Linked DNA regions of Homo sapiens. The protein of the gene in region 5 purifies or fractionates together with the protein of the main gene of each other region. This does not show direct contact. Each region holds a gene or a part of one and is shown on either strand. Other genes may lie near its edges.

Evidence for each region.
Region 1: the proteins of PWP2 (region 5) and ANO4 purify together in Homo sapiens (affinity purification with mass spectrometry; one large-scale study listed by BioGRID and IntAct). This does not show direct contact.
Region 2: the proteins of PWP2 (region 5) and ENOSF1 purify together in Homo sapiens (affinity purification with mass spectrometry; one large-scale study listed by BioGRID and IntAct). This does not show direct contact.
Region 3: the proteins of PWP2 (region 5) and BBS7 purify together in Homo sapiens (affinity purification with mass spectrometry; 2 studies listed by BioGRID and IntAct, with this or other methods). This does not show direct contact.
Region 4: the proteins of PWP2 (region 5) and WDR75 purify together in Homo sapiens (affinity purification with mass spectrometry; one large-scale study listed by BioGRID and IntAct). This does not show direct contact.
Region 6: the proteins of PWP2 (region 5) and UTP18 purify together in Homo sapiens (affinity purification with mass spectrometry; one large-scale study listed by BioGRID and IntAct). This does not show direct contact.
Region 7: the proteins of PWP2 (region 5) and MPHOSPH10 fractionate together in Homo sapiens (co-fractionation; one large-scale study listed by BioGRID). This does not show direct contact.

The regions. Positions count from the first base shown.
Region 1 is NC_000012.12:101,119,776-101,123,275, forward strand, and holds part of ANO4 (anoctamin-4), read left to right. Parts: intron 1-744; coding exon 745-850; intron 851-3,500. UniProt on the Homo sapiens protein: Has calcium-dependent phospholipid scramblase activity; scrambles phosphatidylserine, phosphatidylcholine and galactosylceramide. Does not exhibit calcium-activated chloride channel (CaCC) activity.
Region 2 is NC_000018.10:702,631-706,130, forward strand, and holds part of ENOSF1 (mitochondrial enolase superfamily member 1), read right to left. Parts: intron 1-3,500. UniProt on the Homo sapiens protein: Plays a role in the catabolism of L-fucose, a sugar that is part of the carbohydrates that are attached to cellular glycoproteins.
Region 3 is NC_000004.12:121,853,475-121,856,974, forward strand, and holds part of BBS7 (BBSome complex member BBS7), read right to left. Parts: intron 2,088-3,500; coding exon 2,015-2,087; coding exon of another isoform or gene 1,970-2,014; intron 1,350-1,969; coding exon of another isoform or gene 1,347-1,349; coding exon 1,230-1,346; intron 1-1,229.
Region 4 is NC_000002.12:189,461,974-189,465,473, reverse strand, and holds part of WDR75 (WD repeat-containing protein 75), read right to left. Parts: intron 2,991-3,500; coding exon 2,832-2,990; intron 1,781-2,831; coding exon 1,721-1,780; intron 1,629-1,720; coding exon 1,513-1,628; intron 396-1,512; coding exon 220-395; intron 1-219. UniProt on the Homo sapiens protein: Ribosome biogenesis factor. Part of the small subunit (SSU) processome, first precursor of the small eukaryotic ribosomal subunit.
Region 5 is NC_000021.9:44,124,399-44,127,898, reverse strand, and holds part of PWP2 (periodic tryptophan protein 2 homolog), read right to left. Parts: intron 3,320-3,500; coding exon 3,172-3,319; intron 1,889-3,171; coding exon 1,780-1,888; intron 1,000-1,779; coding exon 934-999; intron 1-933. UniProt on the Homo sapiens protein: Part of the small subunit (SSU) processome, first precursor of the small eukaryotic ribosomal subunit.
Region 6 is NC_000017.11:51,263,546-51,267,045, reverse strand, and holds part of UTP18 (U3 small nucleolar RNA-associated protein 18 homolog), read right to left. Parts: intron 865-3,500; coding exon 766-864; intron 1-765. UniProt on the Homo sapiens protein: Part of the small subunit (SSU) processome, first precursor of the small eukaryotic ribosomal subunit.
Region 7 is NC_000002.12:71,137,134-71,140,633, forward strand, and holds part of MPHOSPH10 (U3 small nucleolar ribonucleoprotein protein MPP10), read left to right. Parts: intron 1-1,356; coding exon 1,357-1,498; intron 1,499-2,661; coding exon 2,662-2,729; intron 2,730-3,500. UniProt on the Homo sapiens protein: Component of the 60-80S U3 small nucleolar ribonucleoprotein (U3 snoRNP). Required for the early cleavages during pre-18S ribosomal RNA processing. Part of the small subunit (SSU) processome, first precursor of the small eukaryotic ribosomal subunit.

The DNA.
Region 1 (3,500 bases), on a different chromosome or scaffold from region 5:
TTTTAGTTCTTGGGCTTCATAGTGGATTTATGAGAGCTTGTTGTATTATTAAAGTATTACTTTAATGGAGTCACATGGATTAAAGTTCTCTGAATAGTGCCTGGTCCCCAACAGGTATTCGGCAAACATTTGTGGCATTTTATGCCGACTCAAAAGTGATAGCTGGAGGATACATTAGGAAGGACTCTTCTAGTGGCAAGTGGCAGAAATCCAGGGTAAACTGACTTAAACAACAAAAAATTGTTCAGTTAGCTGGGAGAGTCAAGGGGTGATATGAGCTTCAGTAATGGCCGGATCCCAGGCCTCAAGCAGTGTCAGCAGGATGCTGCCTCTCTGCTGTCTCTGCTTTGTTTTCTTGACTTCCTTCTCAAGCAGGCTCTCTCTCTCCATACAAGGCCACCAGGAGTCCCAGGCTTTTGCCTTCTGTGGGCTTAGTGATCATTCACTAAGTGATAGTTCTGGCAGACATCTTGATGATGTCACTGATCAGGTCTGGCTCATCTTTTGAGCTGAGATCAGGCAGGTGGAGGGGGAAGTCCTAGTCAACCCACACAGATGATTCCCCAGAGAAGAGATATTATTTTATCAGAAGAAAAATGCTGGACAAGCAAAACAACAGATATCTAGTATAGAGAAACTTCAAATTTCCCTCCTATTGAATGAGGACTATATAATGAGAATGGAAGAGATTTGAGAATCAGAAAAATCATAGTTTGAATGCAACATTTTTCTGTGTCTTTATAGATACCGGGACTACCGTGACCCGCCTCATTCACTGGTGCCCTATGGCTACACACTGCAGTTTTGGCATGTCCTAGCTGCTCGATTAGCTTTTATCATTGTCTTTGAGGTAAGTTTCCTCAGCCAAATTCTTTATTTCCTTTGACATAATGAAGTCAGTAGGAGTAATGAATAAAAATAAGTGATGGGGATTTTGAATGTGATTATCTATATTTCCAGAAGTAGTAGTGTCATATTATGTAACCTCTTTTTGATCTTTTTTCTTAATTGAAGTATTTGATTTTTCCAAGACATATTTGAAAGTCCATAGTTGGTTTTTAATGGACAAATCTGAACTCGTTGCTCCTAAATGTAATTTTCTGGGGCCATAGTTCTTAAACTTTAGCAAAAATGCAGTTTTTCCATCCTCACTCCCAGATATTCTGACATACCATGTCTGTGGCTTGTTTTTCATGAGCTCGTTGTAATGATTCTGACTATAGGCATTCTGGGACCATAATTTGGAAACATTTGGAAAACATCAGCCCAGTAAGATTCATTCTTTTTTTCTTTTTCTTTTTCAACTTTTATTTTAGATACAGTGGGTACATGTGCAAGTTTGTTACAAAGTTACATTGCATGATGTTGAGGTTTGGGGTGCGACTGAACCCACCACCCAGGTAGCGAGCATAGTATTCAATAGGTAGTTATTCAGCCCTTGTCCCCTCCCCCTCTCCCCTCTATAGTAGTCCCCAGTGTCTGTTGTTCTCATCTTTATGTCCATGTGTACCCAGTGTTTAGCTTCCACTCTAAGTACGTACAATAAGAACTTGCAGTGTTTAGTTTTCAGTTTCTACATTATTTCACTTAAGATAATGGCCTCCAGCTACATCCATGTTGCTGCAAAGGACATGGTTTCATTCTTTTTTATGGCCACATAGTATTCCATGGTGTATACATACCACATTTTCTCTATCTGGTCCACCATTGATGGGCACCCAGGTTGATTCCATGTCTTTGCTATTGTGAATAGTCCTGTGATTGACATATGAGTACATGTGTCTTTTTGGTAGAATGCTTTATTTTCTTTTGAGTATATACCCAGAAATGGGATTGCTGGGTTGAATGGTAGTTAAGCCCTTTGTTCTTTGAGAAATCTCCAGACTACACAGTAGTTGGACTAATTTACCTTTCCACCAACAGTGTGCAGGTGTCCCCTTTTCTCTGAAGCCTCGCCAGCATCTGTTAATTTGTTTACTTTTTTTTTTTTTTTTTTTTTTTTTTTAAGACTGATTCTCTCTCTGTCGCCCAGGCTGGAGTGCAATGGCACAATCTCGGCTCACTGCAACCTCTGCCTCCCAGGTTCAAGTAATTCTCTGCCTCAGCCTCCTGAGTAGGTGGGATTACAGGCACCCGCTACCACACCTGGCTAATTTTTGTATTTTTAGTGGAGACGGGGTTTCACTGTCTTGGCCAGGCTGGTCTTAACCTGACCTCATGATCCATCCGCCTTGGCCTCCCAAAGTGCTGGGATTACAGGCGTGAGCCACTGCACTTGGCCTGACTTTCTAATAAAAGCCGTACTGACTGGTGTGAGATGGTGTCTCATTGTGGTTTTGATTTGCATTTCTCTAATTTCCTTAGAGATTCTGAGCATTTTTTCATATTATTGTTGTCTGCTTCTATATCTTCTTTTGAGAAGTATCTGTTTGTGTCCTTTGACCACTTTTTAATGGGGTTATTTGTTTTTTACATGTTGATTTGTTTAAGTTCCTTACAGATTCTGGGTATTAGACCTTTATTGGGTGCATAGTTTGCAAATATTTTCTCCCATTCTGTACGGTGTCTGTTTACTTCTTTGACAGTTTCTCTTGCTGTGCAGAAGCTCTTTAATTAGATTTGACTTAGCAATTTTTGTTTTTGTTGCAATTGCTTTTCAGGACTTCACCATAAATTCTTTGCCCAGGCCAGTATTGAGAAGGGTATTTCCTAGGTTTTCTTCTAGCATTTTTATAGTTGAGGTCTTACATGTAAGTCTTTAATTCATCTTGAGTTAAATTTTGTTTATGATGATAGGTAGAAGTCCAGTTTCATTCTTCTGCATATGGATAGCCAGTTATCTCAGCACCATTTATTGAACAAGGAATCCTTCCCCCACTGCTTGTTTTTGTCAAGTTGGAGATTCACTCTTTCTAAATGTCTCCAATTATTGCCATCATCATTACCACACATATTGAAATATACTGATTCATATAGTTAATTTATGATTTTCAAATAGTTATCAGGATTTCCCAACATGATCATAAGCATTTTCCAATAGGACTGGGTATTACAAGTGGTATTTCTGGTTGTGTATCATCACGGAATTATTTATATTCAAGCATCCAAGTAAGTATTTATTAGCTAAGACTCAAAATGGAATTATAAAGTAAAATCTGTCTAGCAATTGTCTATATTATATGTCAATAAAAATATATTATCTATTTTCTTTCAGGGTTTAAGAAAATTGCTGTAAAAATAGTTTGCATTTCTATGACTCTAGTCATAAGTGGAAATTTCATCTCTTGTCACATATATTAAAGCCAGATTAATAAAAGCCAAGGTTGCCTCTCGGCTTGGATCTAAAGTTTCCTAGACCTCTTCAAGACTATTCTATCACTGCTTTTTCCTTCAGTCCAGGGAACCAAAAGAAGAAAATATTAAGCTGCTCTTCCCTGGAAATTATCTTACCAATGGCACACTCTCTCTTTAAAGAAGATATTTTTAACCCATCACTGTCT
Region 2 (3,500 bases), on a different chromosome or scaffold from region 5:
TCGGGAAGGTGAGGTGGGACAATCATTTGAGTCTGGAAGGTCAAGGCTGTATGAGCCGTGATTGCACCACTGCACTCCAGCCTGGGTGACAGAGCAAGACCTTATCTCAAATAAATTAATAAATAATAAAAACTTTAAAAACATAAAAAAAGGATAAAAATGAATATTAATTAAGTAAATTTAATAAAGTCATGATTTAAAAAAATACCCAACCAAAAACTACATTGGTATATTCTATACATTTGAAAAACAACCCTCCCTCTCTGTCTCACACACAAGCACTCTCTTCACAGTAACCCTATTTTTTTAAATCATAAACAGATGATTAGGTAAGTAAGCAGAAGAACCAGGATGAGCTAATGGAATTTTTCATCTTTAGTGTGAGTGCTGTGTAACACATTTAGTGAGACTGCAGTGAGTCACCTGAAATATGTAGCAAGGTTAAAGTTAAAATGGGTTCTGTCATGTTGTGGTCTGAAAAAGGAGGAAGCCAAAACCCTTAGCACAAAAGAGTCATTAATTAAAGTCATGGAGAGATGGAAGTTGATTTATCCGTGCCTGAGACATCCACCAAGACAGCGGTGTGGGGCTGGGAATGGAGGAGGAGAGGGGAAGTGAAGGCCCTAAACACTGAGCTCAGCACCCATCCCAGAAGGGCTTCTTATCTATCTTAGTGCCCAGGGCCCCTCCACGTGTGCCCAAGTCAGCAAAGTTTAAAGTCTGGGCTGTTAACAGAGAGTGGGTCCAATGGCCTAACATTATCTTGTAAGCTCGCTGAGTTTTATGCAACCTTTGGGGGCTGTGCTGTAGGGTTTGCAGTATGGAGAAAGGCAGCGGCTTCATAAAGTACTCAACTTACAAACAAGGGACAATTAGAGTTGCAGAAGAAGCAGAAACAGCTCACAGCTCTGTCTTAGTAAGTGGTTACTACTCTGGGGAAAACTTTAACAGTAAATTGTTTACTTAATGGAGAAAAGCGGGACTGACTCACAGCATGGTCTTTCTCTGCCTGGCAAATTCCTGTTTGCTCTTCGAGACTCACCTCAAAGCATTACTTCTGCTCTGAAGCCTTCCCTGAGCCTTTTGGACAGAGTGAAGTTACCCCCTGAGATGGTTTAGACATTCTGCACAAATTTCATGTTGAAGTGTAATCCGCAGTGTTGGAGGTGGGGCCTGGTGGGAGGTGATTATTAGATCTTGGAGGTGGATTTCTCCTGAATGGTTTAGCACTATCCCATTGGTACTGTCTTTGAGATAGTGAGTGAGTTCTCGTGAGATCTGGTGACTTAAAAGTGTGTAGCACCTCCCCATTCCCTTTCTCTTGATCCTTTCGACATAGGACGTGCCTGCTCCCCCTTCACCTTCTACCATGATTGTAAGTGTCCTGAAGCCTCCCTAGAAGCTGAGTAGCTGGCATCATGCTTTCTGTAAAACCTGCAGAACCATGAGGCAATTAAACCTCTTTTTCTTTATAAATTATCCAGTCTCTCGTACTCCTTTATAGCAATGCAAAAATAGCCTGGCTCAGAGTGGTGGTTCATGCCTATAATCTTAGCACTTTGAGAGGCCAAGGTGGGCAGATCATTTGAAGTCAGGAGACCGGCCTGACCAAACATGGTGAAACCTCATCTTTACTAAAAATATAAAAACTAGCCGGGCGTGGTGGTGTGTGCCTGTAATCCCAGCTACTCGGGAGGCTGAGGCATAAGAATTGCTTGAACCCGGGAGGTGGAGGTTGTAGTGAGCGAGATTGCGCCACTGCACTCCAGGCTGGGCAACAGAGCAAGACTCTTGTTTCCAAAAAGAAAAGAAAAAAAAAAAAAAAAAGAACAGCCTAATATATCCTCTCTCTGTAAAACTTGTACATAGTTTTAAAAAACAGTAATTCTCAGACTGCACTATGATCATTTCTTTTATGTCTACTTCCCCAATAAGTTCGTGTGCTCCTTGTATGTGGGATTCTGTCTTCTGTATCTTTTTTCTTTTTTTTTTTGGGATGGAGTCTCGCTTTTTCACCCAGGCTGGAGTGCAGCGGCGCAATCTCGGCTCACTGCAAACTCCAACTCCCAGGTTCAAGCAATTCTCGTGCTTCAGCCTCCTGAGTAGCTGAGATTACAGCCATGCATCACCACGGCCAGGTAATTTTTGTATTTTTAGTAAAGACAGGGTTTCACCATGTTGACCAGGCTGGTCTTGAACTGCTTGACTCAAGCAATCTGCCCGCCTCAGCCTCCCAAAGTGCTGGGATTACAGGCCTGAATCACCACGCCTGGCCTATCTTTCTCTTTTTAAAATTACTTTGGTGCCTGATACATGGCAGCACTCAGAAGTCTGCAGAAGGACTGACTTGCTGGACAACTGACCGCCAGCCCTGTGAAGAGCAGTAACAGCAGCCACCTGGGCAGTGTCCATTGAAAGTTCAAGGAAGGTTCCCTTGCCATTCGCACATACACACACTCACAAACTCACACACTTCTTTTATATGCTTAACAATTTAAAATCTCTCAATGGGCCAAGATTTTTTTCTACAACTACTGAGAGCGCTGATGGTGCAAATATCCAAGGGAGAGGTATCACACTACCACCGAAGTTAGAGAAACTCTTTTCCCTCCTTCTAGACCCTTACCCTTCAATCTATCATAATTTGGCTTCAGGCTCTAATAATCCACTGAAATTGATCTGGCGAAGGCCACTGTTTTGGACTTCTTGAATTTTGTACCATGTGTAAGTATTATGTATTCAAAAAGAGTTGCATTTAAAAGTTCTGAAGAGAAAGTGCTCTGGGCAGTCAGGTGGTTCTGCCATGACTTGCTGGGTAGCTGTCTGTGCCTCAGTTTTCTTCTCTCTAAAAAATGAGACGGCTCAAGATCACCATTTGAGATCACATCCAGCTCTGAAAAAAGTTATGTTCTGTGTCTTCTGTTTAAGAAAATAGAAAATGCAAATAAAAAAAGAATGACGTATACATGGCTCAGTATGCATCTTAAAGAATCTGCTCTTCCCCAAGGGAGACCTCCGAGATTGGGCGGGGCCAAAGCCCTTTTCGCCATGAAAATAGTGAACTGGAAACCGATTTGGTGTGAAATATTTTGAAAAGGCCGGGTGTGATGGCTCACACCTGTAATCCCAGCACTTTGCGAGGCTGAGACAGGCGGATCATTTGAGGTCAGGAGTTCGAGACCAGCCTGGTCAACATGGTGAAACCCTGTCTCTACTAAAAATACAAAAATTGGCTGGGCATGGTGGTGGGAGCCTGTAATCCTAGCTTCTCGGGAGGCTGAGGCAGGAGAATTGCTTGAACCCAGGAGGCAGAGGTTGCAGTGAGCTGAGATTGTGCCACTGCACTCCAGCCTGGGCGACAGAGTGAGACTCTGTCTCAAAAATATATACATATATATATTGAAAAGCGAGTAGACGTGCTGTGCACATCACAATGAGCCTTTTTTGCTATGGGAACTCATGTCTCCTCCCTCTCATTGCCCTTGGTTACTCGCCCACTA
Region 3 (3,500 bases), on a different chromosome or scaffold from region 5:
CCTAGCTGCTCAGACAAAAATTCTGGGCCACATCTGATTTCTTTCTTTTTCTCACCACCCCTCATATCAAAACTGCTAGCAAATTCCATCTTCTCTACCTCCACAATATATACTGAAATTGTCTATGTTTCCAGCTACTGATAGCCTAGACTAAGCTAGCCTAGACTAGAATAAATTATAATAACTCTTCTAACTGGTCTCCATGCTTCCAGTTTTGACCTGTTGCCCCCCGCCCCCTCCAATCCATTCTCCAGTGTCCTTTGTTTTGTTTAGGCTTAGTAAATTAAGTGTCACACTCCCACTGACAATTTTCTAATGACTTCCTACAGCACCTAGATTAAAATTCAAACTGTTTTCCAAGGCTTACACAATTTGGCTCTACTCTACCTCTCTGACTCCATCTCCTGCCATGTTAACGCATTTAGCCAAACTGACTGACCTTCCTACTGTTCCTCAAATGAATCAAATCTACCTCCACCTCAAATCTTTCACACTTACTTTTTCCTCTTCCTGAAACATTTTTTTCCCCAAATCTTCATATTGCTAACTCTTTTTCTTATCAATCAGATCTCAGTTCAAATTTCACCTCTTCTAAGAGGCTATCTTTGACTACGTGGTCTAAAAGTGACCCTCCTCCTTCTACCATCACTCTCTAATACACAGCCCTGTTTTATTTTCTTCAGGTGACTAGGTAAAGCTGTCTTATGTATTTATTTGTTTTTACTCTGTCTCTCCTAATAAGTATTTGTTGAAGGAATAAATGAATATATGAACATCCTGAACATATACATAGGCATCTCACTATCTACCTAATCAGTTATAAATTCTCCTTAGAAAGGTATAAATTCCTTAGAAAACAGGAATATTCTCTGACCCACTGCACTTCTTCTTTGCCTCATAACAAAGACTCCCAGATTCCAATTAATTCTGTACCTCAAACAACTAAATTACCTCAGACAATTAAAATCCAATTAAAATTGGATTTTAGCATAAAATGATATTAGCCTATAAAAACGTATCAATACCAAATTACTATCAGCATTTCTTACTTTTAAAAAATTATGCCAATAGTATAATAGACCTGACAAATAAACAAATAGTAGATAAATCAAGGTGTGAATTGCTAAGTCTGCTATGTAGTATAAATAGATAAAATAGAATAAATTATATAATTTAAGATACTTAATAATCATTGACACCTCAGAATCTGAACTACATGAAAAGCATACCTCCTCTCTTTTTCTCATTTTGAATTTCCCACTTGCGTACTGGTTTGGATGTAGTAATCTGTATAAGCGCAAGTTTTCCGTCTGATGTCCCAAACAAAAGGTCTTCTCCAGAGTCACCTACTTATAATTAAAGTCAACATATTATATTTATCCTACAATTAGTAATCTCTTTAAAATTAAAATGTTGTTATGTAAAAATATCATTTTAAAAAGTACTATAAAAAGATATAAAACTTAATTGTTGAGAATGGTTATATATTCACACAATTTTATAGCTATAAGAGATAAGACATTTCCCCATTATATAATTTTAAGATGAAGAAACTAGGTTGGGTGCCGTGGCTCATGCCTGTAATCCCAGCACTTTGGGAGACTGAGGTGAGAGGATCCCTTGAGCCCAGGAGTTCCAGACTAACCTGGGCAACATGGCGAAACCCTGTCTCTATAAAAAATACCAAAAACCTAGCCGGGCATGGTGGTGTGCGCCTGTAGTACTAGGGAGGCTGAGGTGGGAGGATCCCTTGAGCCTGGGAGGTCGAGGCCGTGGTGAGCTGAGATTGTACCACTGCACGCCAGCCTGGGAGACAGAGTGAGACCCTGCCCCCCAGCCCCCCAAAAAAGAAAAAAACGGAGAATTAAAAGTTCAATAACTCGTGCTGTTAGTTACTGGCAAGTTACCAGAAAGACAACTGTCTCAATTCTAGTTTATGTCCTTTCTACAATTTCCCATTTTCACTTACTATTAAAACACATAGTTGATTTGTGAAAAATAAAATCCTGATTACCGCCATTTCCATTGTGTAGTGCTAAGACAGTAGGGGGTCCAGGAACTTCAACTGCATACATCACATCAGATCCCTGAAGGAGAAGTATTTAAAAACTGAAACAGAATACAAACTGAAAATAATAGAGGCATTCATGAATAACATCAATATTCAAATACAGTACTCTTAGTAACACCTAGAATAAAATTGCTTTAAAAATTAGGTTACGAATACAACTTGCATTTGTTAGCAATTTTGCATATATCAACTGATTTGAAAACAACATATATACACATATATACGTATAAATGTATACATATATACGTATATATACAGATATGTACACACATGTATACATATATACACATATGTATACATATATGCACATGTATGTGTATATATGTATATGTACATATATGTACATACATGTATGTGTATATATGTATATATGTGTACATGTACATGTGTATATGTATATGTACATATATATGTGTGTATATATATATATATAAAATGTAAAGACCAAGAAGAAAACATTTAAAATATTCTCTACCTTTAATACATTTTAAATACATTGTTTGCCTGAAAACTTGACACTGGCAGATTTTCCTATCAAGTCTCTAGGAACAAATTATTCCCTCTGCCCTCTCTAGGTTAACTGGAAGTCTTTAACTTGGAATACATCCAAATATTTTAACAGACACAAAGTTACTTCCTAAGGAAAATTTTGGCCTTGCCTTTGGGTATTCCCAAAATCTGCTCCAGTCAGAGGCTGAATGACCTGCTACTTAGATAAAAAAACAAGTTAGGTCCTTATATATTTATCAGTTTTTCAATTTTGCTACTTGTAATGCTTGTCATTTTGGGCACAGTATTTGTGATGCTGTTAAAGAATGAGTTAGAAGTACTTATACTCACATGGAAAAAATATCCATGATCTATAATTCAATGAATACAAAATTTGCAAAATGGGGTGTGGTGGCTTATGCCTGTAATCCCAGCACTTCCGGAGGCCAAGACGGGTGGATCATCAGGTCAGGAGTTCAAGACCAGCCTGACCAACATGGTGAAACCGTCTCTACTAAAAATACAAAATTAGCCAGGTGTGGTGGTGCATGCCTGTAATCCCAGCTACTCAGGAGGCTAAAGGAGGAGAATTGCTTGAACCCGGGAAGCAGAGGTCGCAGTGAGCCAAGATTGCACCACTACTCCAGCCTGGGCGACAGAGCAAGACTCCATCTCAAAAAAAAAAGAAAACACAATTTGCAAAATTATAGTTAATATGGTATGACATTTTTGTTTTAATGTTTTTTTTTTTTTGAGATGGAATCTTGCTTTGTTGCCCAGGCTGAAATGCAATGCTGTGACCTCAGCTCGCTGCAACCTCCACCTTCCGGGTTTAAGTGATTCTCCTGTCTCAGCTGCCCGAGTAGCTGGATTACAGGTGCAGGCCACCATGCCTGGCTAAGTTTTGTATTTTTAGTAGAGACAAAGTTTCACCATGTTG
Region 4 (3,500 bases), on a different chromosome or scaffold from region 5:
CCATGTTTCTTTATTCATTATGAGATGACATTATGACTTAGAGGACATCAATGTCTTCTCAGAGCAGAAAGCTTAAAGGTTTTATTAGAATAAAACCTCTCCCATATCTCTAAATCTAAACCTTGTCAAGATGAAACATCTTAAAGACAATTGAAACTGTAAAATGGGAAGTGAAATATTTTATACTTTGAAATTAAGTGGCTACACAGATAGTATTACCCTTGTGTTTTCTTATTATACATCCACAGTTTCATTTGCAATTCAAGCTCAGTTTCCTTTTCTTGCCGCTGTTCCACTGTTGCAAGCCAGTTACCAAAGCAGCCAAATGCAGCCTTTGTTAGTTCAATTTGGATCAGACCATAATCATTAATATATTCTTGCTGTATAATATCTAACTGATGAGTAAAAAAAACCAAAAAACCAAAATGTTTATTAACATAAATACACAAATGTTACAGCATTCAAGAAATGATAATTAACTACATCCAAGACAACTTCTGTACTGTATAGTAATAGATTTTTAAATAAAGGCAAAAATGAACTAATTGTTACTATGGACACCAAAATTGCCATTAAAAAAGGGAACACATTATAATAGTATCAATTTGGTGGTAATTATTCTTCAATGACCTTGAATATTAGCGATTACTAACACCCACTATATGATACAACAGAACCGTTAATTTATAGTAGTGCTTTTCTTTTGTTTCTAAGAACAAACAGCTTTACATCATCTCAAGGCTAGATTCTCTGTCAACAGAAACAAGCAGAACAGAAATAAACCTACAATCTTTAAGAAATGAAAAAAGATAGCCAATGTAAGTAGGCCAGCATTTATTTATGGTTGTTTTAAAAAAAATCCCATTTCCTTGCCTATACTAAGTAAATAAAATGCCTACTATTAAGTGTACTAAATGCCTACAATTTACAGGCATTATACTTGAGATAAGCATAAAATGATTAATATGCTTCCTTTTTTTTGAGGGGTCTAAAGGCCACGGTGAGAAAGAGCTAGTGTCACAGTTGCTATGACAGAGATCTGTAAAGAGTACTGTGGGGAACAAGAAAAGTGGGACATCTGGATTGGACTTATCAGGATTGGAAGAAGTGTTCCTCTTTAATCTACACTGAAAATTTTATCTTCAATATGTGAATATGATAGTGTTTCACCACGAAGCAGATACAAATTTGTACTGTCAATCTACCTATTTTTGTTTCTTTATCCTTGTGACTCAAAAGCACAGATGTATGGGATAGCTAATAGGAGGGCATTCTGAAACAAAAGACAGAGACAGCACGTACAGGAGTGCCAACTGGCTTACATGTAACCTGCAACTGTGGCCTCAATGGAATTATGCTCTGAACAACTGAACTAAGTAACCACGGATAATACTATGTTCAAGTAAACATATGCACAGGATCTTGTTTTAAAAGCTACTAAACAAATTGCTTGACTCCAGTGGTACTGTAAAGAGCTTTCATTAATTTCAAGGCTAATGATCAAAATCTTACATTGTATAACTGTTTATCACTCTGGAGAGAATAAAACTGCAGGTGGCCAGGTTTTCCATTCAAAACCAAAGCTTTAGTTCTTGGATCAATCATCAAACCAGTGAAGATACTCCTATCTGCAGAAGTGGTGACAAATAACAGGTGAAATAAGAGAAATATGCACTCTTTAAAATGTTCATGATTCCAAATCCACTGAGTTCTGCAATACCTTTCACTAGGCCTTGAATTACTGCGGATGCTTCAAGGTTTCGGTGAATAATTATTATCTCTGTGGGTAGAAAAAAATAGGTATTTAAATATCAATAGGTTAGAGAAAGCTTGTCCAACCTGTGGCTCAGGGTGGCTTTTTATGCAGCCTAACACAAATTCATAAACTTTCTGAAAACATTATTATTATTATTATTTTTAGCTCATCAGCTATCATTAGTGTTAGTATATTTTATGTCTGGCCCAAGACAATTCTTTTTCCAATGTGGCTCAGGGAAGCCAAAAGATTGGACACCCCTGGGTTAGAGCTTCAAGGTGAAGGAGTCACCTGAGTTTATATTCTGAAATATACCAGAATACAAAACAACCCAGTAAGTTCAATGAACTCAGAGTACTACTAGAAAATCAGGAATACATTTTGTGAGTTAGTGGAAAATCTAGGGGTGGGGATAGGGGCTTTTCTGTTGGAGTCTTTAAGTTTTTATCAGTTGTGCCTATGAACACATTTTAAGTGTTAATGCAAAATCTATAGAGTATATCTAATAAAAATAGTTTAACTTTTTCATGCCACTAAATGGACTGCTCACAGTTATGTTCTTTTTTGAAAGAAAAGGAAGTGGATTTACAAAGATATCCTAGTCTAGGCTGAGTAGTCACTGGATGAACAAAGTTTTGGAGAAATATAAGACTGCCTCTATTTCTATCAAATCTACAGGACTCTTGCCCCCAGGTAACAGCTGTATCAAAAGAGAATCTTGCAGTATTCTTTTGAAAACGGAAGGTTTATGAAAGCACCAATGTCCACTTCCAAACCTTCCCTTTATTTCCTCATGTCATCCCACACTAAAAGACTTTGAAAATGTAAGTGGCACATCAATAACCAAATACACTTAGCCTTCCATTTTATAAAAATAATTCTCAAAAATGTTGAATTCTGGTGGTGCCTAGGGGTAGAGAGGGGTGGAAAAGAGAGGAGTAATGCAAGGAAAAGAAGGCTCATTAAATCTCATACGCTACTCTTAGTTTTAGGTCTCTTTATTCTCTGTTCCCTACAGATGCTAGCTAATTTATGGTGTTTATATATTTCCTCATAATAAAAAATTTAGACTTACTATTATCAGAGTGAGAAGTGCAGAATAAATCTCCTGCAGGCGAGACTGAGATATGTTCAATAGTAGCTCCTAAACGCGGGAGAAACTCCTTATTCTTCTCTGTTGCATCGCGCCACTCTACAAGTACAGATTCACGACCGCCACTCAGCAGACTGGTGCCTTCATATCCATTCAAGGAAATTAAAAGGATGGTGTTTTGAGGAAAAAAGAGAAAGAAAAATATAATTAACACTTTTGTTTTTGCTACCGTACTAGAGAAATAAACTCATTTAAAGCTACAAAAAGTGTCTTCGTATCTTTTAATATACTCTGAAGACAAATGATCACTGGTTCAGGAATTTTTTTTCCAGTGATATCTGATTAGTTTGTTGCTGACCAACTCCTCTGTTGACAACTAGAAAAGCTGGACAAACAAATATCCTTTAGGCCAAGATAGCTTCACTGATAAATTTTTCTAAACATTTAAATACTATACCAAAAATATTATATATATATAAAAAAAAGCCGATTTCACGACAGATGAAAATTCTTAAGCAAAATACTATACCAATGATATATTAAAGGGTATCATGTCATCGCAGTTTACTGCAAGAATGAGATTACCTTAACAGCTGAAAAATAAATTAATGTAACCCCACTTACAGAACAAAAGGAAAACACCATGATTAT
Region 5 (3,500 bases):
AAGCTCATTCCTCCCAACATTTTTTTTCTTTTTTTTTTTTTTTAAAGAAACAGTATTAAGTACATTCCCCTGGGACAAAGTGCAAAAATCAGGAGGAACCGGGACGTCTGCCTCTAGCCCCCACCCCACTACTCCCCTGGGAAGGAATGAATGGATCATCCCAGAAGTTACTCTCCCAGGGATGCACATATAAGCAAATATGTACACGCATGCGTCCTCCTCTCTTGACGCCGGGAGCCAGCCAAGTCTTCTGTCTAGCTCAGGCGTCTTCAGCTCCGCAGGCCCTGTGGTCTCTGCTGCACCTACTCAGTGCTGCACGGATCACTAGAGACAGCCAGAAGGATCCGCCAACAAAAAAACGCCCAGTAAAATGTCCCAGTAAAACATCAGTGACCAAAGCAGGTGGCCAGCCAGATTTGGCCCTTGGGCCCGAGGGCACAGACCCCTGGCTCACATGGGCCTCTCTGCCCCTGGCTCTGACACTCAGTCTAGGCTGGAGCACGCTTGCCAATAGCCCTGCTCCTGGCTCCTCTGTGTGGGGACCATGTGCACCGCCAGGCTCCACAGGCCTGTGGCACAGACCCTCCTCCCCACTGCGAGAGGATGGGGGCAGTGCGCAGGAGACGGGCTCTCCGTGATGGCAGAGCCGCCCCCAGGCAGCACGTCCAGGGCACTCGGGGAGCTGCTAGAGCAAGGGCATACCAGGCCTGCCATGTTTCAAAGCTCAGTGCATCTGAGGTTGGCACCGTGACAGCCATCCATCCTCAGGGACAACAGCCATCTTGTGGCCTGCAGGGTTTGCAGGGCCATGTTCTTACCCAGGGGCACAGGGCACAGCCCAGAGCCTGCAGACAGCTCCATGGTGGCCAGCCTTGCTATGGCACAGATGCCCCAGTGCCCACCGGCACCAAAAGCCCATGGCTCAGTGCTCACCAGTGGGAGAGAAGCGGAGTGAGGTCACCCTGATCTCAGGTTTGAAGTGCCGAGAACTCATGTCACCTGGGGAAAAAAGAACCGTTAATGATCACTGGACAGCATATCCAGGCTGCTCTCCCCACGAAGCAAGTCATCCTGCGGTCTCCCGGCTGGCTGGGGGGTGCTGTGGGAGCCCCATCAAGAGCAGCAGCCTCTACTCATTGGGTCCTGCACAAAGCGGAGGCAGAAGCAGCCCTTCCCTCGCTGCAGCTGCGGCAGGTGGGCCCGTGCTGGGGCCGCGGAGGCTGTTCCGGGTGAGCTGCCAAACAGATGGCCCAGCCCATGGGGCAGATGCTCAAAAAAGCCAGCCCGGCCAGCAGACTGTGTGTCCAACCCAGAAAAGGGCCCCAGCCCAGCCCAGGAGTGGGTCTGCTGTGCTCAACACGGTACCCTGGGCCTGCATATGGAAGCACTCAGGGTTTCTGGCTGGCGAGTGTCCCATCAGGATGGTCTACCTGGGACCCAGATCTTCTAGAGCACCTGGCTCTCTGTGCGGCGCACATGGCCTCACGCCAGAATGCTCCGTGTGCTGTGCAGCAGACGGGGCACCCAGTCCCAAGAGCAAATGGACGGGTCCCGCCAGGGCAGGGAGGCCACGTGTAGCAACACATGGGCAGCTTCTCCTGCCCAGGGGCTGACGGCACCAGCACCAACCCACTGGGCCTTTGACACCCCCAGTGTCCAGCAAATGTCACCATGTAGTAACTGTTATTTCCACACACTGCAGCCCCAACCAGGGGCATGAATGCGTGGTCACCCAGGACCGGTGAGTGGTGGGCAGATGCGGGAGGAACCTCTGCTCACCTTTCCTGACGCCTGGCAGTGGTATCGCGACTCCATCCTCCTGCCCAGCATCCTGATCAATTAGTGCCAGGTTGCCAAACTCTGTCATTTTTCTTCGGTTCAAAAATTCCTAGAACAGCAAAAGCAGTGGACGCCTTGCTTCTGATGGCCTGGCCGCCTGGCCCTCGTCTCCTACCCTTGCTCTTTGACCCCAACACCAGACAAGCCTCAGCCCTGTCTAGAACAAGGACGGGGAGAGAGCCCTGCAGTGCCCCAGGGACTCTTCCTGCAGAGCTAGCTGCAGACAGGGTGGGTGTGGAAGCTGTGGAGCAGGGCAGGTGCGGAGGCTGCGGAGGGGGATGGACTGAGGTCTACATGCTGGCATTGCTGCCACCATCACAAAGGCTGGGGCTCACAGCGAGGATGGCCGTCTACTCCCTTGTGAAAATGCCAAGGACACTTTCCCCCAGAAACATTTAGGGGACAGTGGGCTTCTGCCCCGATGGGGCGTGGACAGGTGAACCCAGCAGCCACACCCCTGCTTAGAGGCTACCAGGGCTTCCTCACTCTCATTCTGAGGTCCTGCAGGAGCCAGCATGTGAGTGGGACCTGAGCCGAGGGCTGTGCTGAGGGGGAAGGGCAGGCACCAGTGGGGACAGTGAAGGCAGAGCCTTGTACACAGGACCCCGGGCAGGAAGCCATCGGGCAGGGCCTACCAGCACCCTCTTCGTTCACTCCTTCCCTGACAGATGTCCGTGTCTCCTGAGCCAGCGTGTGCTGGGCACTGCCCCTCACAGCTCCAGCCTCCTAGCAACCAGCCTCGGCAGGGTCATCCACAGCAGTGGTTCCCAACCCCTGGTACTGGCCCATGGTCTGTTAGGAAACAGGCTGCACGGCAGGAGGTGAGTGGTGGGCAGGTGAATGAGTGAAGCTTCATCTGAATTTACAGCCGCTCCCCATTGCTCGCATCACCACCTGAGCTCCGCCTCCTGACAGATCAGTGGCAGCATTAGATTCTCACAGGAGTGCGAACCCTATTGTGAACGACACGTGAGGGATCTAGGTTGCACCCTCCTTCTGAGAATCTAATGCCTGGTGATCTTGATCTGAGGTGAAACAGTTTCATCCCAAAATCAATCCCCCCAACCCTGTCTGTGGAAAAATTGCCTTCCACGAAACCGGTCCCAAATGCCAAAAGGGTTGGGGACCGTGGCTCCACACACAGCTGAGGCAGGTGCTGGCTTCACGGCCGGACTCTGCTGGGGCAGGTGAGGGGCCCGTGCACTTAGATACAGGACAAGCACCACAACTGTGCCCAAGGCCCCATGGAGCCAGGAGTGCAGAACGCAGGAGCCCGACGCATTCCACCTGCATTGGAAGCAACATCCATCCGGCCCCGCGCTGGCGGCTCACCTCCATGGCGTCCAAAGACAGGTTGCAAGAGATCTCGAACCTCTTCATGAGAATCTGCTCACGGACGTGGTAGATGCACACGAACTTGGACATGCCTCCCGCCAGGATGCTGTGGCCGTCTGCAGAGTAGCACAGGGCGGTGAAGGCCCTGGGTGGAGAGGAGACATGGACTTACGGTGGCCACCACGGAAACCTCAGCGTATGGCTCCTAAAAACCAACTTTAGGCCTGCATGGTGGCTCCCGCCTGTTATCTCAGCACTTTGGGAGGCTGAGTTGGGAAGATTGCTTGAGTCCAGGAGTTCAAGACAAGCTTGGACAATATACCAAG
Region 6 (3,500 bases), on a different chromosome or scaffold from region 5:
GACCAGCCTGAGCAACATAGTGAAACCCCATTCCTACAAAAAAATTTTAAAAATTAAGGTGGTACATGCCTGTAGTCCCAGCTATGGGGAGCCCAGGAGATAGAGGTTGCAATGAGCCATGACAGCACCACTCCATTTCAGCCTGGGTGACAGAGTGAGATCCTACCTCAAAAAAATATATAAATTTAAAGGACATAAAATCCAAATAAAATGTATGCACCTTACAACAATTGGAGAAACTAACATGGACTAGCCGTAAACTGTTAATTTTCTTAGGTATGACAATGGTATTGTGAATATGAAGGAAAACATCCTTAATCTTAAGAGATGCACATTGACAAATTAATGAGTTAAGTGTCGCATTATCTGTACCTTACTCTCAAATACATTGGGAAAGCACACACATCCCCCAAATACACAAAGCAAATATGACAAAATGTTAAAAACCATTGAACCCAGGTGGTGGCCATTTAAATTTTTGAAAATGTTCATATTATAAAATTATGGTGTACCATATGCAAATGAACAAGTAAGCAATATTATCACTGATTATATTTGAGTGGTAAGAATTTTTTTCCAAATTTTCTTTGTGTCTGTGTTTTGTCCCCTCTCCCCTAAAAAAAACTACAGAAATTTAGTCACTGCCCACAATAGCAATCCTCTTACTGTTTCAAAATGGAAAACTACACAAGAAGCGGTTACGGTTAATGACTGGGCATTGGTTACATACACCTCTTGGTAAATCATATGAAAAAAGACACTTACTCTTCTTTAAGTCTCTTTTTAAGGTTGTCTTTCGAAAGTTTACTTTCACTAGCATTTTTCATCATATCCTTCCGAAACCGATTGTTCATCATGTCAACCCTACAAAAACAGAACAGCATATTTTAAATAACTTTTAAAGAGTTAATATAAATAGCTGCTGCTTTTAGCACTTGGAGAAAAATGTTTAATGAAACAATATAGGTCAAGATTTTTAAGATGTGAACATTTCAAATGCATCTTCTCTGTTCTTCCTAAAAGAACAAAAAAGTAGTTGCCAACATTTCAGATCATCTGGTTTACACTTTGGAGAGCTACTATTTGAGAAAATTCATCATGACTTATCTGCACACAGTTTATGAAATTCTCCAAAATAAACCCCAAGTAAATCAAAGAGTTAAATACATAAAGAGCAAACCTTAGGCCCAGCGTGGTGGCTCACGCCTGTAATCCCAGCACTTTGAGAGGCTGAGGCAGGTGGATCACGAGGTCAAGAGATCCAGACCATCTTGGCCAACGTGGTGAAACACCATCTCTACTAAAAATACAGAAATTAGCTGGGCGGGGTGGCACACACCTGTAATCCCAGCTACTCAGGAGGCTGAGGCAGAAGAACCACTTGAACCCAGGAGGCAGAGGTTGAAATGAGCCCAGATTGTGGCACTGTACTCCAGCCTGGGCAAAAGAGTGAGACTGTCTCAAAAAAAAAAAAAAAAAAAAAGGCCGGGCACGGTGGCTCATGCCTGCAATCCCAGCACTTTGGGAGGCAGACACAGGCGGATCACTGAAGGTCGGGAGCTCGAGACCAGCCTGGCCAACGTGGTGGAACCCTGCCTCTACTAAAAACACAAAATTAGTCCAGCGTGGTGGCAGGAGCCTGTAATCCCATCTACTCAGGAGGCTGAGGCAGGTGAATCACTTGAACCTGGGAAGCAGAAGCTGCAGTGAGCCAAGATCGCACCACTACACTCTAGCCCAGGCAAGAAGAGCAAAACTCCATCTCAAAAAAAAAAAAAAGAGCAAACCTTAAAATACTATGAAGTAAAAATATAGATAAACATTTGTCTCTCTCTGTTAACTACTTACTATTAAAAAAGCAGTAAAAATAATGAAGGAAAAGATTCACAGATTTGACTATATAAAAATTCAAAACTTCTATGCACAGAAAGCTGGGGAAAACCTACAATAAATCTAACATATAAAGGTTTGAAATTCTCAATATGTCAGGAACTAATATACCAAGATTATTTAAAAAGTCTCCAATAGACAAGGACATAATAAAGAATATTTATAAGAAACGAGGCCAGGTGTGGTTGCTCATGTCTGTAACCCCAGCACTTTAGGAGGCCGAGGCAAACAGGTCACTTGAGGTCAACAGTTCGAGACCAGCCTGGCCAACATGGTAAAACCCCGTCTCTACTAAAAATACAAAAATTAGCTGGGCATGGTGACATGTGCCTGTAGTCCCAGCTACTTGGGAGGCTGAAGCAGGAGAATCGCTTGAACCTGGGAGGCGGAGGTTGCAGTGAGCCAAGATCGCGCCACTGAACTCCAGCCTGGATGAAAGGATGAGAGTCTCAAAAAAAAAAAAAAGAAGACAATGACTAAACACAAAAACACTTCCTCAAAACAAACTAGGTAGAGATATTACCCACTACCAAACTGACAGAGTCTGGAAAAAAAAAACAAATAAACCATTGTGTCTAAGAATGGACTGAAACTGACACCTTTCAATGGGAAGGCAAACTGGTAGAGCCCCATAGCATGCAGTCTGGCAGTACTTATCAAGAACCTTAAAAATAACTGTGCTCTTTGATTAAGTAATTCTACCTCAAAGAATCTTTCTTAAGGCAATAAATTAGAAAATAAAGAAAGGTTTATACATAAAGAGGTGATAAACATTAATGCTGAAATAATCTGCATTAAAGGGAAAAATAAGGCTGGGCACAGCAGTTCACGCCTGTAATCTCAGCACTTTGGGAGGCAGAGACGGGTGTATACTTGAGGTCAGGAGTTCAAGACCAGCCTGGCCAACGTAGCAAAACTCCGTCTAACTCTGTCTCTACTAAAAATACAAAAATTAGCCAGGTGTGGTGGCACACGCCTGTAGTCACAGCTACTCGGGAGGCTGAGGCAGGAGAATCGCTTGAACCCAGGAGGCAGAGGTTGCAGTGAACCAAGATCGCACCACTGCACTCCAGCCTAGGTGAAACAGCAAGACTCTGTTTCAAAAAAAATAATTAAAAAAAAAAAAAGGGAAAAAGAAAATCTACCCAACAATAGCCACGTAAATTATGGTTAATTCACATAATTGACTCCAACATAGCCATTTTAAAATGTCTATTTTTTTTAAGTAGGGAGAAATGTTTACAAAGTAACTTTATGTAGAAAAAGTCAAAATGTTAAATCAAGCATACAGTACATTCTCATCCATGACAGTTCCTATGGTGTGAGCTACCTTCTTTTTAGCCTTTACTCAGTTTCAGGCACTGTGCTAAAAGTTCTACAAGTACTATTTTGTTTAATCCCAACAAAATTCTGATGTAGTTACTATCATTGTGCCCATTTCACAAAGGAAAAAATGTAGGTTCCAAACTGCCCATGGTCAATTAGAAACTGGCCAAAAGAGGAGGCAAATCGAGATCTGACTTCAAACACTGTATTCTCTTAGCTACTGTATACAGCAAAGAGGAGACTGAGACAGAAGTGTGACAACATGCTAACAGCAGTTCTCCCTC
Region 7 (3,500 bases), on a different chromosome or scaffold from region 5:
GAAAGACATTTGATAAAATTCAATATTCATTTCTAATTTTTTTTTTCACTCCTAGCGGAATATAAATACATTTAAGCCAAAAACTGCCATCATGCATGATGCATGCATCATTCTAGAAACATCCCTTTAAGATCAGGAATAAGACAAGATGTCCAGTATTACAATTACCACTGTTGATTAACATTCTTTTAGACGCATAGGCCAGTGTAACTACAAAAGATAAAGATAAGAGATGAGGAAAACTGCCAGGTGCGGTGGCTCATGCCTGTAATCCCAACACTTTGGGAGACCAAGGCAGGAGGATTGCTTGAGCTCAGGAGTTCGAGACCAGCCTGGGCAACATGGTAAGACCTCGTCTCTACAAAAAATACAAAAATTAGTCAGGCGTGGTTGCACGCGCCTGTGGTCCCAGTTATTTGGGAGTCCAAGGTAAGAGGATTGCTTGAGCCTAGGAGGTGGAGGTTGCAGTGAGCTGAGATCACGCAACTGCTCTCCAGCCTAGGCAACTGAGCGAGACTGTCTCAAAAAAAAAAAAAAAAAAAAAAGATTAGGAATACTGCAGATGTATTTATATTCCACTAAGAGTGAAAAATGAAAGTGTTGGTATTTGGAGAGGAAACCGAATGGATAAACTGAATTGATATTAGGAAAATAAGAGAATTCTGTAAGGTAGCTGAAAAGGCTGGCATTTTATACACTGAAGTCATCATTGTTGTCTTTTAAAAGTTAGAGATAATGGCCAGGCATGGTGGCTCACGCCTGTAATCCCAGCACTTGGTGAAACCCCGTCTCTACTAAAAAATACAAAAATTAGCCGGGCGTGGTGGCACACGCCTGTAATTCCAGCTACTCGGGAGGCTGAGGCAGGAGAATTGCTCAGGAGACGGAGGTTGCAGTGAGCTGAGATCACACCACTGCACTCCAGCCTAGGCGACAGAGCGAGACTCTGCTTCAAAAAAATTTTAAAAAAAGAAGTTAGAGTAAGAATTTGAGTTTGGAGTCAAAAGGGTCAGACTCCATCAGATACTAATATTCTAATCAAAGAATTACTTGACTTGCGAATAGATAGATCACTTGAATAGAATAGAGCCCAGAAACAAACTCAAAAGCTTCTGGGGGCGTTTAGTATATTATAAACATGGCATTTTAAATTAATCAGGAAAAGAAATTGTTTGCAGCTCACCCCACCATAGGCAGCAGAAATAGGAAGTCATCGACAGAATAAAAAGATGGCAAGAACAGAATCGTAGAACAGTACGTTTCTTGCTTTCCCACTTTTTAAATTATTTTTTGCTTTTACACAAATATAAGATTTTATTTTCTAAATGTATACTAGTTATTTTATCTCTTTCTTAGATGAATGAAAAAATTGCATCTTTAGAAAAAGAGTTGTTAGAAAAAAAGCCGTGGCAGCTTCAGGGGGAAGTGACAGCACAGAAGAGGCCAGAGAACAGCCTCCTGGAGGAGACCCTACACTTTGACCATGCTGTCCGGATGGGTATGGTGCCCTCTTCTGTAGTTTTCATGTCTGTGCTTTTTCCATGGTTCCATTTCATACAAAGATTTGGGGTGGTGTTTCTTTTCCCTCAACTTTTTATTTTAAAAACTTGTAAACACATGGCTTGGCATGGTAGCTCACACCTGTAATCCCGGCACTTTGGGAGGCCGAGGCAGACGGATCACCTGAGGTCAGGAGTTTGAGACCAGCCTGGCCAACATGGTGAAACCCCGTCTCTACTAAAAATACAAAAATCAGCCAGATACGGTGGCAGATTTCAGAATCCCATCTACTCGGAAGGCTGAGGCAGGAGAATTGCTTGAACCCAGAAAGGGGAGGTTGCAGTGAGCCAAGGTTGTGCCAGTGTGCTCCAGCGTGGGCAGCCTGGGCAACAGAGCGACACTCTGTCAAAAAAGAAAAAATCAACTTATAAACACAGAAGAGTTGAAAAAATACTACAGTGAACACCTATATGCTATTCAATTGGATTCACCAGTTACCATTTTGTTATATTTGCTTTCTCTCCCTAGCATATGTAAGATTGTATATGTGCCCTTTTTTTAAGTAAGTTGCCAATCTCATGGCACTTCACTTTTAAGTACTTTTGCAGATATCGTCTAAGAACTAGGACATTCTCCTATGTAATCACAGTACCATTAATCCACCCAAAAAATTTAACAATACGCTAATGATACCTAATGTATAGTTTGTAATCAGCTTTCTTGTAGTAATCTGTTTTGAAGGCTTGCATCCTGTCATGGTCCACTGATTAAATTTTGAACTTCAACCTGAAACTGTGGTCATCTCATTGACTTCTTTCTTGTACCCATTACATCAAAATGAGTTTTCATTTTATTTCAATGGAAGAGAGAATGGAAAAGAGGGGAAGAGTCCCTGGGTACCTTGGGTAAAGTATTAGCACTTACTACCATATGTATCCTAGTTTTGTGGTTTTCAAACTTCAGGGAGCATCACAAGGCTTGTTAAAGCACAGATAGCTGTCCCTCTTCCCCACTTTCTGATTCAGGAAGTATGGGGGTGGCCCAGGAATTTGCATTTCTAACAAGTTCCCACGTGTTGCTGATGCTGTGGGTCCAAGGACTGCACTGAATCAATGGTCTAGTGGATATCTACCTAATGAATAAACGTTGTATATCCTTTAGCACCTGTGATTACAGAGGAAACCACCCTTCAACTGGAAGATATCATTAAACAGAGGATAAGAGATCAGGTCAGTAAGAATTAAATTTAACTTAATCAAAATGTCACCAAGATTTTTAGAAATAATGTGAGAGTACTTTGAGAGTAGGACTATTGCTTTTTATTTTCACTTAGTGTTCACAAACCTTAAATCTAGGCTACCTAGTCAGCTTTTGTTGTGTGAGGTACTGCTCTTCAGTAGTATCCAGGAAAGACGAGTATTGTGCCTGAGAGGAGCAAGAAGCCATTATCCTTTCTCGTGAGTCTTGCTGACCTTTTGGGCGGTGCTCAGTGAAGCTGGTGGCTGACCTGTGATGGTTGCACCCAGAACCCTTGGCTTAGGCACAGTATCTGGTGTGGTAAATTATTCAGTATATATGTCCTAGTCTTTTTTCTGTTACTTATAACAGAATATCTGAAGCTGGGTGACTTAAAAGGAATACAGTTATGGAGGCTGAGAAGTCCAAGGTCGAGGGGCCTTCTTACCAGTGGGGATTCCGCAGAGTCCCAAGGTGGTGCAGGGCATCACATGGTGAAAGGGCTGAGCATGCTAAGATGCTGGCTCAGGTGTCTCTTGCTCTTCTTAAGAGCCACCATTCCCCCACTGATGATAACCCATTAATCCATAAATGCAACTGCCATTCATGAGGGCAAAACCCTGGTGATCCAGTCACGTCCTAGAAGGCCCCACATCTGAGTGTTGCCACATCAGGGATTAAGTTTCCACATGAGTTTTGGAGGGGACATTCAAACCCTAGCATTGTGGTAGTTCTACAATTTTAAAACCATTTCTCAATGGTGT